3 separate regions of the Homo sapiens genome follow, and regions 2 and 3 are each reported to be linked to region 1. Evidence: microRNA targets listed by miRTarBase, many of them from high-throughput screens and not tested one by one. Region 1 holds a microRNA gene; each other region holds the end of a gene's coding sequence. Distances are between the middles of the regions.
Evidence for each region. Region 1 holds the annotated microRNA hsa-miR-1250-3p (ACAUUUUCCAGCCCAUUCA, at 2,924-2,942, opposite strand). A microRNA usually pairs through its seed, bases 2 to 8, with sites in the 3' UTR of a target mRNA and lowers its output. Matches are read on the target gene's strand: a 7mer-m8 pairs with bases 2 to 8, a 7mer-A1 pairs with bases 2 to 7 and ends in A, and an 8mer does both.

Region 2: miRTarBase lists SLFN5 as a target of hsa-miR-1250-3p. Seed matches in the 3' UTR shown: 7mer-A1 at 1,922-1,928.
Region 3: miRTarBase lists SIX6 as a target of hsa-miR-1250-3p. Seed matches in the 3' UTR shown: 7mer-A1 at 3,790-3,796.

Annotation. Positions count from the first base shown.
Region 1 is chr17:81,130,305-81,134,603 of GRCh38, forward strand. MIR1250 (microRNA 1250) reads right to left here and starts at 3,004; the gene lies at 2,892-3,004. It overlaps AATK (apoptosis associated tyrosine kinase), which reads right to left. Exons shown (of 14, transcript NM_001080395.3): 2 at 4,064-4,197; 3 at 757-901. LOC124904079 (a long non-coding RNA gene) reads left to right here. Exons shown (of 4, transcript XR_007065937.1): 2 at 4,092-4,299.
Region 2 is chr17:35,265,280-35,269,409 of GRCh38, forward strand. It overlaps SLFN5 (schlafen family member 5), which reads left to right. Exons shown (of 5, transcript NM_144975.4): 5 at 1-4,130. The coding sequence ends at 609. Among named protein-coding and RNA genes, the nearest start is that of SLFN5, 24 kb to the left of the region's middle.
Region 3 is chr14:60,510,972-60,515,101 of GRCh38, reverse strand. It overlaps SIX6 (SIX homeobox 6), which reads right to left. Exons shown (of 2, transcript NM_007374.3): 2 at 2,252-4,018. The coding sequence ends at 3,850. It also overlaps a transcript of C14orf39 not described here. Among named protein-coding and RNA genes, the nearest start is that of SIX6, 3.9 kb to the right of the region's middle. RefSeq lists a silencer at 1-20 and enhancers at 1-243, 3,317-4,088.

The DNA.
Region 1 (4,299 bases):
GATAGCTCTGGAGGGACCCGCACCCACCACCTAGGCTCCAAGACAGAACTGGGAGGTCCTGAAGCCTGGCCATTCACCCCCAAACTCCCCAGCACGTCCGCCCCATGTGAGTGGTCGGCCTAGGACCCTAGGATGGGGGCAGATGAGGCTGTGGCTGAGGCCCTGCCTGCACCTGCACTCCTGGGTCAGCCCCACCCCTCGGCCCCTCCTCGCAGCCTGAGTGAAAGGCTAATTCACCACCCGCCCACACGGGCCCCACCAGCGCCCCTCCTCCTGCCATGCACAATGGAACCCGTGTCCCTGAAGGGCTGGCGCTCAAGGGGGCAGGAATCTGGGGTCAAGCATCCCTGGACTGCAGAAGAGCCCCTGCCCCCAGCACATGGCCATGTCCAGGACCAGAGAGCCCGCACCCCTGCCCCAGTGCCCACCCCTGCCCCGTGCCCACCCCTGTCCCTGTGCATAGCAGCCCCTTGGGCAGGGGAGGCTGGAGGCCGAGGGCTGTCCTGGACCCTGCCAACCCCTGGCCGGCCCCCAGGCCCAGGAGAAAGAGGTACATGCACCTTTGGCCCCACAGTGCGGCCTGTGACGCAGCCACAGGGAGTCCAGGGCTGCACACTGCGTCTACCCCACAGGCCACTCCCAGCCCTGTGCTGCCCCCACTCCAGAGCTGAGTCTTCCGGTCTCCCCAGATCACACCCAACGCCCAGCACCTGGGCCCCGGAGGGAGGCCACCCCATCTCCCCACCCAGCCCTCACCTGAGCGCCCAGGCTGCTTGGCCATGGGCAAGGAGACCTCCGTGAGTGGCAGGACGTACACGTCGGGCCCGTTCTGTGCTGCCGTGGCCGGGGAGCCCTGCGCCAGGTCGGCTGCGTACTCGTCCCCCTCCGCATTCTCAAACTCCTGCGGGCCGGGCCGGGCATGAGCGGGGCTTCTCGCAGGTCAAGGAAGGGTGTGGCTGGGCCTGGAAAGGCCCCTTTCTTCCAGGGCCGAGCTCCCAGGGCAGGGCAGGAGGGGGTGCTCGGCCCAGAGTTGGAGCCACCGCCCCTGCAGGCCAATGGCCCAGCACCCCTGCTAACTGCCCTTCCATCTGTCTCCTCTTGCTGACCCCCACGCCCCCGACCAGAGGCTCAGTTGTTCCATGAGGGGCCAGAGGCAGATCCCAGAGCCAAGAGGACCCATCTCAGACTCCAGAAAGGGCGCGATGAGCTGTAGGCACCAGCGCCTCAGCCTGGCCTCAGTTCCCCCATCCCTCCCTGGCGGGCAGCCCAGGCTGAGCCCCACCTTGGGGCCTGAGGGTCTAGAGGCAGGGAACCAAGGGACAGAGGTGAGGGCACTCAGGCCAGCTGGCCCTGCCCATCCAGAATCAGCCCCCAGCACCTCTCAGCCACCCACATCCCGAGCAGCCCCTCACCCCGGGCTGTGCCTGGGGTCCCACCCTCCCATGGCGCAGCTTCGGGGACAGGAATTCCATCACCCCCTGCCCCACAGTCCTGTGGGAGAAGCAATTAAGTGCCCCCACCCCTGCCGGGACAAGGAGCATTCCTGGATGTCTGGGAGCCCAGAGCCAACCGGCCACCTTTACCCTGGGCAGCCCACCTGCCACCGCCATCTGCCCCAGCAGCCTTGGACCTTCACCTGGTGGCCACACCACCTCCGGAGCTCCCAGAACTCCTTAAGAGCCTGGCCCCGTGCAGCCTAGGGCTGGGCCACTCCCTGCCAGGCTGCTATTTTGAAATGTAGAGGCTGCACCTGTATAGGGGATACCCCACCCCCAAGTCCAGGGCACATTCCTGCGCTGAGAGCCAAAGTCTCCAAAGTCCTGGGCCCAGCTGAAAGCAATTGCTCCAGGCACACAATGACAGCCCCAATCCCTGAGCACTTGGTACAGCCTTTCTGTCCTTCCTCACAACCCCCAGTGCCCTGGTGGGGAAGCTGAGGCTCAGAGGAGTCAAGGGACTTCCAGCTGGATGCTGGCCAGCACCCGGGCTGGTGAGTCCGAGGACAGGCAGGTGCAGTGGGAGGGGAGGCCTGGGCTCCTCAAGTACGACGTGTGACCCTGGGGACGCCTCCCTTCCCTGGGCTGCAAAGAGAGGGGCAGGTGGCTCTGTCGGTATTCCCGCAGGCCAGGCCCAGCCTGCCCTTTCGGAGCACACAGCCACTCAGGGATGGGGGACGCAGGTGCTGCGTGGGCAACTTCCCCTCCCCGGGACCCAGAAGACCACCCCAGAAGCCCCCTCTTGGGCCCTCCAATCCCAGCCCCGGCCTGGCCCCACCCATCTGGGCTTTGTAGAGGGGCCCAGGACACAGATGCTGTCTCTCCCTGGGGTCGGGCCCGGGCTCCAGGCATTACCTGCTGCCCGGGGGCCAGCCGGGTCCTGCCGATACAGCGTGCAATCAGGTAGCACAGGGTCAGCATTGGGGGCCTGCCCAGCCCCTTCCCTCAGCACAGCTCCCCACCAGGGAGCCCAGCGCAGGTCCCCAAATCCCAGGAGGGAGCCCAGTGTGGAGGCAGGACTTCCCAGGGGCACACTGGTGCTGGAATGTTCCGGGCACCATGTTCCCAAGGAGGTGAGGAGGGCGCAGGAGGAGGAGCTATGGCCAGCCCTTGTTTGGGGCCTTGTTCTTACAGTGCCCCAAGGAGGGGCCACTTATACAATAGCCCCACTCGTCCCACCCAGGCCCCACCTCCACTCCTGCTCCCGCCAAGACCTTGAGGCTCTGGCCTCGGGATCCCCAGGAAGGCGCCTGCGCGGCCTGGCCTGGCCCCTGGTGCCAGCGGGTCAGGGGTACATCCCAGAGCAGGGTGGGGGCTCTGGGCAGGAGTGCAGACCCCACAGCCTGGGGCCACAGCTTTGCCCCCCAGGCACGCAGCTCCTCACTGGTTGATGGGGCCTGTGGCCACTTCAGAGGGCTCTGGAAGGTTGAATGGGCTGGAAAATGTGGCCTTTAGAAAAGGCAAAAAGGCCACATCCAGCACCGTCACCTGCCAGGCCAGCGGGACAGGTGGGCAGAGCCAGCTCCTTGGCCCATTCTGCGTCATGACATACCAGGGGCAGGGAGGACTCTGGGACTGTCTCCCAAATGGGGGTGGCGCCAGCTGAGTCATGGGTCACTTAGTAGGAAGGCACCCTGAGATACAGACAGGGTGCTGTGCGCGCTGCAGAATGCCTCCTCCCACCCTCCTCCCTCCCTGACTTCTCCTGGCGTAGGAATCTGACCTCTGGCCCAGGGGTGGGGCTGACCCCCGTGGGCGTGTGAACCACCAGAGGTCCAGGCCAGGGTGTCATTTGCTCATCAGCAGGAATGGGACCCATGGAGACTCTGGGAGGGGGAGGCGATGCTGGCCGGGGTTCCTTCTGCCTGGCCCTCCCTGCTGCTCAGAGTTACAGCTGGAGGTGGGCTGGGGGTTTGCAGGGGGAGGAGCAGTGCTTGGCACCTGTCCTTGGCCAGGGGCCTTGGCCTCCAGAGGGGCAGCCTAGTGAGGCCAGGCCTCACCCTTGGCGGGGCTCCCTAACCAGCAGGCTGGGCTCTAGCATCACACATCGTCCCCTCCAGAAGGCAGAAGATACCCCGCGCAAGGTGACTCCAACTGGCAAGAAGGTCCCTGTGCCGGGAAGCTTGTCTGGGCAGCCCGGACTCCCCTTTGCAGATTGAATTCGGAGGGACGTGAGAGCCCCTTGCAGAGGCAGCTCCTCCACCAGGAGTCGGGCCTCTAGGGAGGCAAGCCCCCTCCCACACCAGCTCCAGAGCCCCCGACGCCCCCTGCAAGGCTGTCCTCAGCCTCCGTGAGTGCTCGGGCCCAACCCCAGGCTGGAGTGGGAGCGTCAGACCACGCCCCCCACAGAGGGCCTCAAAGTCGAGGAAGCTGGGGCAGGTCCCTGAGGAGGAGCTATGGAGTCCCTGGGCCAGGGTCCACGTGGTCCCCAGGTGGCCCCACAGCAACTACGGCCACCCAGCAGCCACCTTGATGGCCCCAGGAAGGAGGGAAGCTCAGGGTCAAGTGGACGCTACAGGCCTTGCCTGCGGGATCCCACGACAGCTCCCGCGGCCCCCAGGCCTCACCTTGAACCCGATACCGCCCTTCTTACAGCACAGGCAGGCCAGCATGAGGACGATGACGGCGAAGAGCCCGGAGAAAGACACAGCCACCACGGCGAGGGAGGATGGCCAGGACAGCTCGCTGAGCGGGGCGCCGTCTGCGGGAGAGCAGTGTGGTGAGAGTGGCCATGGCTGAGGGCCGGCCAGGCCCCTGCCCCTGCTCTGGGCTCCACAGCCCCACCTGGACTTGCTGCATTCCA
Region 2 (4,130 bases), 46 Mb from region 1:
CACTTGAGTTGCAGTGGCCTCCCCCCTCCCTCAGACCAGTATCCAAGAGAAGAGATCAACAGAGTGGTCCGCAATGCAGGTCCAATAGCTAATTACCTACAACAAGTAATGCAGGAAGCCCGACAAAATCCTCCACCTAACCTCCCCCCTGGGTCCCTGGTGATGCTCTATGAACCTAAATGGGCTCAAGGTGTCCCAGGCAACTTAGAGATTATTGAAGACTTGAACTTGGAGGAGATACTGATCTATGTAGCGAATAAATGCCGTTTTCTCTTGCGGAATGGTTATTCTCCGAAGGATATTGCTGTGCTTTTCACCAAAGCAAGTGAAGTGGAAAAATATAAAGACAGGCTTCTAACAGCAATGAGGAAGAGAAAACTGTCTCAGCTCCATGAGGAGTCTGATCTGTTACTACAGATCGGTGATGCGTCGGATGTTCTAACCGATCACATTGTGTTGGACAGTGTCTGTCGATTTTCAGGCCTGGAAAGAAATATCGTGTTTGGAATCAATCCAGGAGTAGCCCCACCGGCTGGGGCCTACAATCTTCTGCTCTGTTTGGCTTCTAGGGCAAAAAGACATCTGTATATTCTGAAGGCTTCTGTGTGACAGGAAACCCAAGCCTAAGAAACAATTAAGTGGTTCTCATCTCTAATTAACTGTGAAACCATTTAATCCAAACATGTAAGCACACACTCACTTATTAAGTCACATACTTTTCTAGGTGCTGGGGATTGAGAACGAATCGATGTAAGATTCCTCCTTTAGGGCAGAGACAGACCACTGACAAATACACAGATAGACAAGGAATTTCCCATGGTAAAAAGGGATATCAGTAATTAGAGGACCGTGAGACTCAGAGATGTGTGTGTGTGTGTGTGTGTGTGTGTGTGTGTGTGCGCGCGCGCACGTGCACATGTGTGTAGGTAGATGGAGGGGGTGATTATTTTGGGTGGTCAGGGAAGTGCTCAGTGAGGGAAGAACTTGTCATGAGAATCTCTGAGCGTGCCAGGCAGACTCGGATATTTTTATAAATTTTTAACATGGCCACTTGCAGAAGAGCTTGAATGGGACGTGCAGCGAGAATGTGAAGGATGGAGCAGGTAGCTCATCTGGCCTTGTAGGTGCCGGGAACGGGCAAGACATGTTTTGAAATGTAAGATCACAGACTGTTTTTTGCAAGACCACATTATATTACTTTATTATTTTCTGCTTTTTCTTTTAACGACATTAGTGTTTTTGATCACTATATTTTAAAATGCTTTTTGTGAGCCTTTTGGTTATGTGGAATCTGTTCCTTAGCTCTGATTTTTTATTCTTATGGAGCGTCTTAGGTTACTACATGAAGGTAAGACTGCCACAGTCCCCCAGGGAGGCACACTGTGTTTTACTGATTGATTTGAAGATGATAGAGAGCCTAGGGGGATGAGTCTATTGGACTCAAAGGTTACATTTTGTTTTTCCATTTAATTTAATAATCAACAAAACGACAAAGTCAGTTTAATATCTTTCTTCTGCTGAGTCTTCAGGATGTTAGCTAGTCTTTCAAAAGCCATTGCTACAAAAGTGCAAATTTCTCATTTCCTGTGGGTCTCTAGAAACTCTCTCAATATTTAAAGCCAAACAAATCCATCTTTTCTGAGAGACAGAAACTAAAAAATTCAGAGTTAATTCACTATTAAAAACAGCAAGGCCCTGCTATTTCCCAAGAATAAAGAAATTTAAAATTCTCATTGTAAGAAGTATGAACTTGAAGCTAGAATTGGTTTATTTCTGGCAGCTACTTACAATATTAAGAACTTTACTTTTTAAATTTGAGACAATTTCACAGGAAAGCAAGAAATTAGTCTATTGTGAAATGTTTTTACAACTAACTTGGAATATACTGCAAATCACTAGTAAGTAGAGACACATTTAAGATAAAATGATTAATAAAACAATTGGTAATTCTGAATAAGGATCTGAATAAATCCAGATCACAGACTGTTCCTTTACCAATATGTAAAAGAATGTGCAAAATTAGTAAAAATATACCCAAAAATTTACCAGCAACAGAGAAGCAAAGAATGGAGTTCAACCTTACACTATAAACATCTAATAGATATGTATGAAAATTTAAAAACTAGAAAAGGTTGGGCATGGTGGCTCATGCTTGTGATCCCAGGACTTTAGGAGGCCAAGGTGGGAGGATTGTTTGAGCCCAGGAGTTCAAGACCAGCTTGAGCAATATAGTGAGACCCTGTCTCTACAAAAACAAACAAACAAACAAACAAATAAATAAATAAATAAAATTAGCTGGGAATGGTGATGCACACCTGGAGTCCTAGCTACTCAGAAGGCTGAGGCAGGACGATCACTTGACCTCAGAAGTCTGAGGTTACAGTGAGCTATGATCATACCAGTGCACTCCAGTCTGGGTGACAGAACAAGACCCTGTCTCCAAAAATTAAATAAATAAAACAAAAAAAAAGAATTTAAAAGTTTTATATAAAGGCATAGCTACTATCTCATCTGCCCAGTGTAGTCATGAATAGATGTCACATAAAGAAAAGAAAACCAGAATTCTTGTTAATATGGCCAGTTTGAAGGGTGGTGGCGGAGGTATTGAGCAGGCAGCTCAGGGAAATGCCAGGGAGACCCTTGAGCACAGAAACTCCTGATTGTCCCCAGGGACTCTCCGTGGACACAGGAGGGATTTTCCAGGATTTCACATGAATTCAATGAAGGGGGCTGTGTCTTATTCCTGGATGCTTTGCCTCCTTCATGGAATTCAGTGGATTTAATGGAAGTTCCTAGGCAACAATAAAGAGTAGAAACCAGGTTAACAGCGAGGGCCTCATCTCACACCAGATCATATCAGGCTACACAAAAGTAGATGGAAGACACCACCCAGGCCTCCAGCTATACACTGGAGAAGAAGCCAAACTAGTCTACTTCATCTAAGAAAGTTGTCAAAGAGAGCCCTTCTATACTATCTTAAGGTAAAAAGAAAGACTCTACCCAGCTGCCCTGATTAAGCATTAGAAAGATAAGTGTTCTGATCATTAGGCGAAAGACAATGGGGAAAAATGTAGAAAAGAAATATGACATGAGCCAGATGAAGAACCCATCCTGAAAGGATATATAACTCAGGGGACAAAAGACAACTCACCATAAGTTGGGCGCAGTGGATCACGCCTGTAATCTCAGCATTTTGGTAGGCCAAGGCAGGTGGATCACCTGAGGTCAGGAGTTCAAGTCCAGCCTGGCCAACGTGGTGAAATCCTGTCTCTACTAAAAATACAAAAATTAGCTGGGTGTGGTGGTGCATGCCTGTAATACCAGCTACTCAGAAGGCTGAGGCAAGAGAATTGCTTGAATCAAGGAGGCAGAGGTTACAGTGAGCCAAGATCAGGCCATTGTACTTCAGCCTGGGCGACAAAGTGAGACCCTGTCTCAAAAAACAAACAAAGCCTCCCCATAGATGTCTCCTGCCATAGAAGAATTTAAGAAGTTCATAAATTCAATAAAACAAGAGTTGAAGGCCTGTCCCACTGTACCCAATTTCTCCCTCTCTGAACTGCAGCCTAGAAACTCTCTACAGGCAGTAAGCTGGGGCAGTCACAGAGGTGACCTCATCTGTTTCCCACATCCTGCATTAGGACAGTGATCAGGGATCAGTATCCTTCATTGACTGATTTCCAATATCTCGAGACCTGTTGTTTCATATATTTTGCCTTATTTTGCAATTGTTTCATATATTTTGTCTTATTTTGCAATTGTTTCAGGAGGGAGGATAAATATGGTCCCTGTTCCTCTATCTTGACCAGAAGCATCTAAGAAGGCAGTGAAGCAACATGTGTACAGTTCTTAGGGAAACAAATTTTGACCTAAAAATATTAAACCTAGTCAAAATATTATTCTAGTACAAAGGCAGCACATGGGTATTTTTGAACATAAAAGAGTTCTAGAAATACAGGACCCATGAATCATTCTTGAAGAAAAGTTACTCAGTAAGGAAATCTAGCTAAGCAAGCAACATGTACAAATAAAAGATTATTATAATTGGACCAAAGTTAAGTTTAAATCCATTCACATGTATATAATTAAGATATATAGGAATTATAATTACAGAAAAGAATGTTACAAAC
Region 3 (4,130 bases), not on the chromosome of region 1:
CGCCCGGGCCAGCGCGCGGACAATGACCCCTTCTCCCCTCGCCGCCGCCTCCTCCCCGACACCGCCCCCTCGCAGCTCACAGGCAAACCTATTAGCCATTCAGGCCGACAAAACCCCGCGGCCCCGCGCATTGTCCCGCCGAGCGCCCGGCCGCCGTCATTAGCCCTGATTACGCAGAGCCGCCTGACAGCCCCGCCGGCCGCTCCACAGACCCCCCATTCACGGCCGCCCCCGGGCTCCGCCTCACAAAAGGAGCGGAAATCGTCCGCGCTCTCGCGTCCCCGTTGAATAGAGCGAAAAGCTGCTTCTCCTCTCCTCCCGCCCCATTCACATTCTCTTTGGATACAATATTTTTTTCCTTTTTGTTAAAATTAGGGAGAGGGAACGAGGTCAAGGAAGACTTTGCTTGAGCTCTTTGCCTGTCATTTGTTTAATGTAAACAAAGAGCAAGCCCTCCCCACCCCCATCGTCTTCTCCCCTCCCTCCCAGATTTTTTATAAACAAACTGGCGAAGGGAAAGGAGGGAGTGACGGGTGGAAGTGGAGTGGGTCATTAAAGTGGAGGCGAGAGGAACTGCGGCATTTGGGGAGCAGGGGCCGTCGTTTTTTTTGGTGAAACTGGAGTGTGGTTGAAATGTTTATAAGCCGGAAAAGAGCCTGACCTGGGGCTTGGGGTAAAATCTTCACATTGGTCAGGTCCGTTGAAATATTTAATATAAAAATGCTCTTTCCACTCTGCTGGAGTAGCTGCTTTTTGGGAAATTGTGACAGAAGAATTGCAGGAAAAGAAAGGAAGGAAACCCATTATATAGAGATTTTGCCAAATTCAGAAACCTTCAGCCTTGCCATTACCTGGACTTTTTTTCCCCCCAAAACCCTGAAGACCAGAATGAAGCTGATATGGAAAAAGTCTTAAAAAGAAACCCTTTAAATGTCCTTGGGAAGATTGGAAAGATTAAAATAAAATAAATCTCTGTGAAGATCTGGACTAATTTCCAATATGTGGTCACCAAAGAATTGGTTATTCACAGAGGCAATTAGGTGCCATCACATTACAGATAAACATTTAAAAAAATCTTACAAGTAATGTGTCACCCCCTTAAGATTCTAAAGTGAAATTAAATAAATAAATATCCAGATTGTTGAAACAGAATAGCTACTTTAAAATGTAGGCAGCTTGTTAATTTAAGTAAATGGTAGCTGTAGTTTAAAGGCTTTTGTCAAAGCAGGAATTAAAAATGCTCCATCACTGTTTGGTCTTCTCTTTTTGTCCAAGCAATAAACTGTCACTTAAAAATTATTTTGTAAAGAGAAAGCTTAGTTTCTTAGTTACCCTATTTTCTTGACACTGCGGAATGGACATTTTCTTCTGCTTTTAGGTATCATTTGAAGGGGTGGGTGGAGTGGGATTTTTAGAATCTCAAATTCTTTTACATTATTCCACTAATTAGTTATTTCCCATCCCTCTAGGACTTGGAAGCATAAACTTAAGAGAAAATTTGCCAACAAACTTCTCCAAACACTGGTTCTGGACAGCCCCATAGCTAAGGGTGGGGTGGGGCTGGGGAACAAGAGTGGATATCCGTGGCTACTCCTTGTCAGATTAAGGACTAGGATGAGGCAAAGGAGGCACTTAGAGTGCAAAATTTAAGGAGGCACTCAATCTCATGTGCCTTGCACTTGCTGCACTTGCATAACCTTGACCGTGAGTCCCCTCCTGGCCTCACTCTAGTCCTCGCCAGCCCCTCGTTAGCATTCTAGGAACTACCTGGGGCTCTAGGAAACAAAATTAAGTACTGAGGAAGCTCTACAATGGGAGCCTTTCAGGACCCACAGGAGGGCTTTTGCTTGCTTTTGGAAAGAACACCAGTTTTATCACGAAAACTTACCCACTCCTTCCATGTAAAGCTCTTGTGCAAGAGAGTTTTGATTTTCAAGAATTCTCTGGATAAGGGCCACCATACACAAGGACAACATTTATAAAGCCCAAATGAGCCAAATCTATTCAAGCGATTTAGAAACCAAAAATCAACCCTTACTCTGTCCTGGGCTTCCATTGTCTATCTTGCCGTTTGGCTGCTTTTTGTCTTCCATGACTTCACTTATTTTTGTTTGGTTTGCACTTTGGCACTTCTGCCTAAAGAAGTTAGCAGGCTTCTGATCCAAAGAACATCTTCTAAGGACAGAAAGGCAAATGGAAAAGGCTGTAATTGGGGGATGGGGACAGTAAAGAGGGAAGTCAGCTCAAGTGATTTAAAGATCAATGTCAAATTTTATAATATGCAATCTGTTTCACTAGGAACAAAATTAGAGACTCTGGCTAGCATTTATTTTCTTAGTGCAAAGATGGTAGATGTTTTTGCGTTGTATATGCATGCATTTGTTCATGTATAGGTGCATACATGCATGTGCACGAGGAAAAATTAAATGCTAAAAATATTTTATGTTTTAATCGAGGCCATTACCAGGACAATGAGGCCCTTGATGACTTGTTCTATGCTTAATTCGGAGATTAGGTTTTTAAAATGCCAGTTATTTCTACAGCCTTGTTTTACCCTCAGTATGTGACATGATTACATCCTTTCCCCCATCTCAGTATCCCTCTTGTTAAAAACCATTCATTTGATTAAAACCAAATTCTGCAGCAAGAAGATGTTAGTCTAATTATTTACAACCTCTTCTATCATCTTTTGTCTTATTTTAATAATAGCTCAATCCTAAATGCAGTATATGCTCACTCTAGCATGATCATGGGTGCCTGCTGCTTTTGTATTGGAGGGGGCCTTGAAGGAGACAGAAAGCCTTTCTTGCTGCAGAGCCTGAGTCAGGATAGTTTTGCATTTTTAGAAAATAGGACTCACTTATTGAGTCCCATAGTTTGGCTTCCTAAATTGCTCCTGAAAGCTGTTGACACTTCATGTAAACGAGTGTCAAGTGGACAAGCCATAATTACCTGTGCTGGGGATGCGGGGACTTGCCTTAGAGAGGACGCTCACATGTTGCCAATTTCTAGCCTTAAATATATCACGTGTATGCATACATACATATGTTTGTATAGGTACATACATATGTTTGTATAGGTACATACATATATGCACATACGTGTAATTTGACGTGGGAGGTGGTTATAGACCTACCATAGGTTGTTTAAAACATATACCAGGAAGCACCAAAGAAGGCAAAAGATATATAGGTAAGACCTTCCGGAGACCATTTGCTCAAGGGTCCCTGCATGCCTGGTGAAGGGAATGATATTAATAATAATAAGAAGAAAAGGAATCTGAGAGCAGCTCCCTTAATTAAGAAGGTTGCCCACTAGGTTGTTTTATTGTTTGGCTTCTCCACACAGAACCCATCACCACCAGCCTGCATGTTTAGAAACAGCAAGTTCCCCAAGCTACAGAGAAACCTACCATGGCGGTCTCTTAAATAAGTAAATAAACAGCATATATATGTTTTGTTAAAAAAAAACTTTAAAGCGAAAGTTATACATATGTAACAGCGTCCTTTCGACGTGAAATACCCATGGGAGAATCTGGGCAGGCGCTCAGCTTGCAGTTCGGGTTCCGAAGGAGACTTTGCAGCAAAATCCTTAGGAAAAAGCAAAGCAAGAAGAACGTGGTGCTGGGTCAGGCCTCACCGCTGGTTCCCGTGGTCGCGGCCAAAGGGCGCCAGTGAAGCCAGGCCGGCCGCGGGGTGGGGCGGGAAACGGCAACCCGAGCCCGCGGGTCCCTGGTCACCTGGCTTCTGTGGCGCTGGATTTGCAGGTCTCTCATCTTCTTCCCCTCTTTCATTTTGTTTTTCTCGTTTTTACACTGGAATCTGCTTCTGAGCATCCTGGATGGGCAACTCAGATGTCGCACTCGCTGTCGCTGGACGTGATGGAGATGGCTGAAGTGGCCGCCTTGCTGGATAGACTGGCGGCCGGGCTGGTGGCGACGCCCAGCACCTCTGGCGTGCCGTCGCCCTCCGCCCGTAGTGCCCGCCCGGAACCCTGTGACAGGACCTGCTGCTGGAGTCTACGGGGAAGAAAGGGAACACGGGTCACAGCTCGTAACACAGCCGCCCGTCGCCCGCCCCCACCACCTCCTGCGTCCCTCCAGCCCGGCGGCTAGAGGTTCTTCCGAAGAC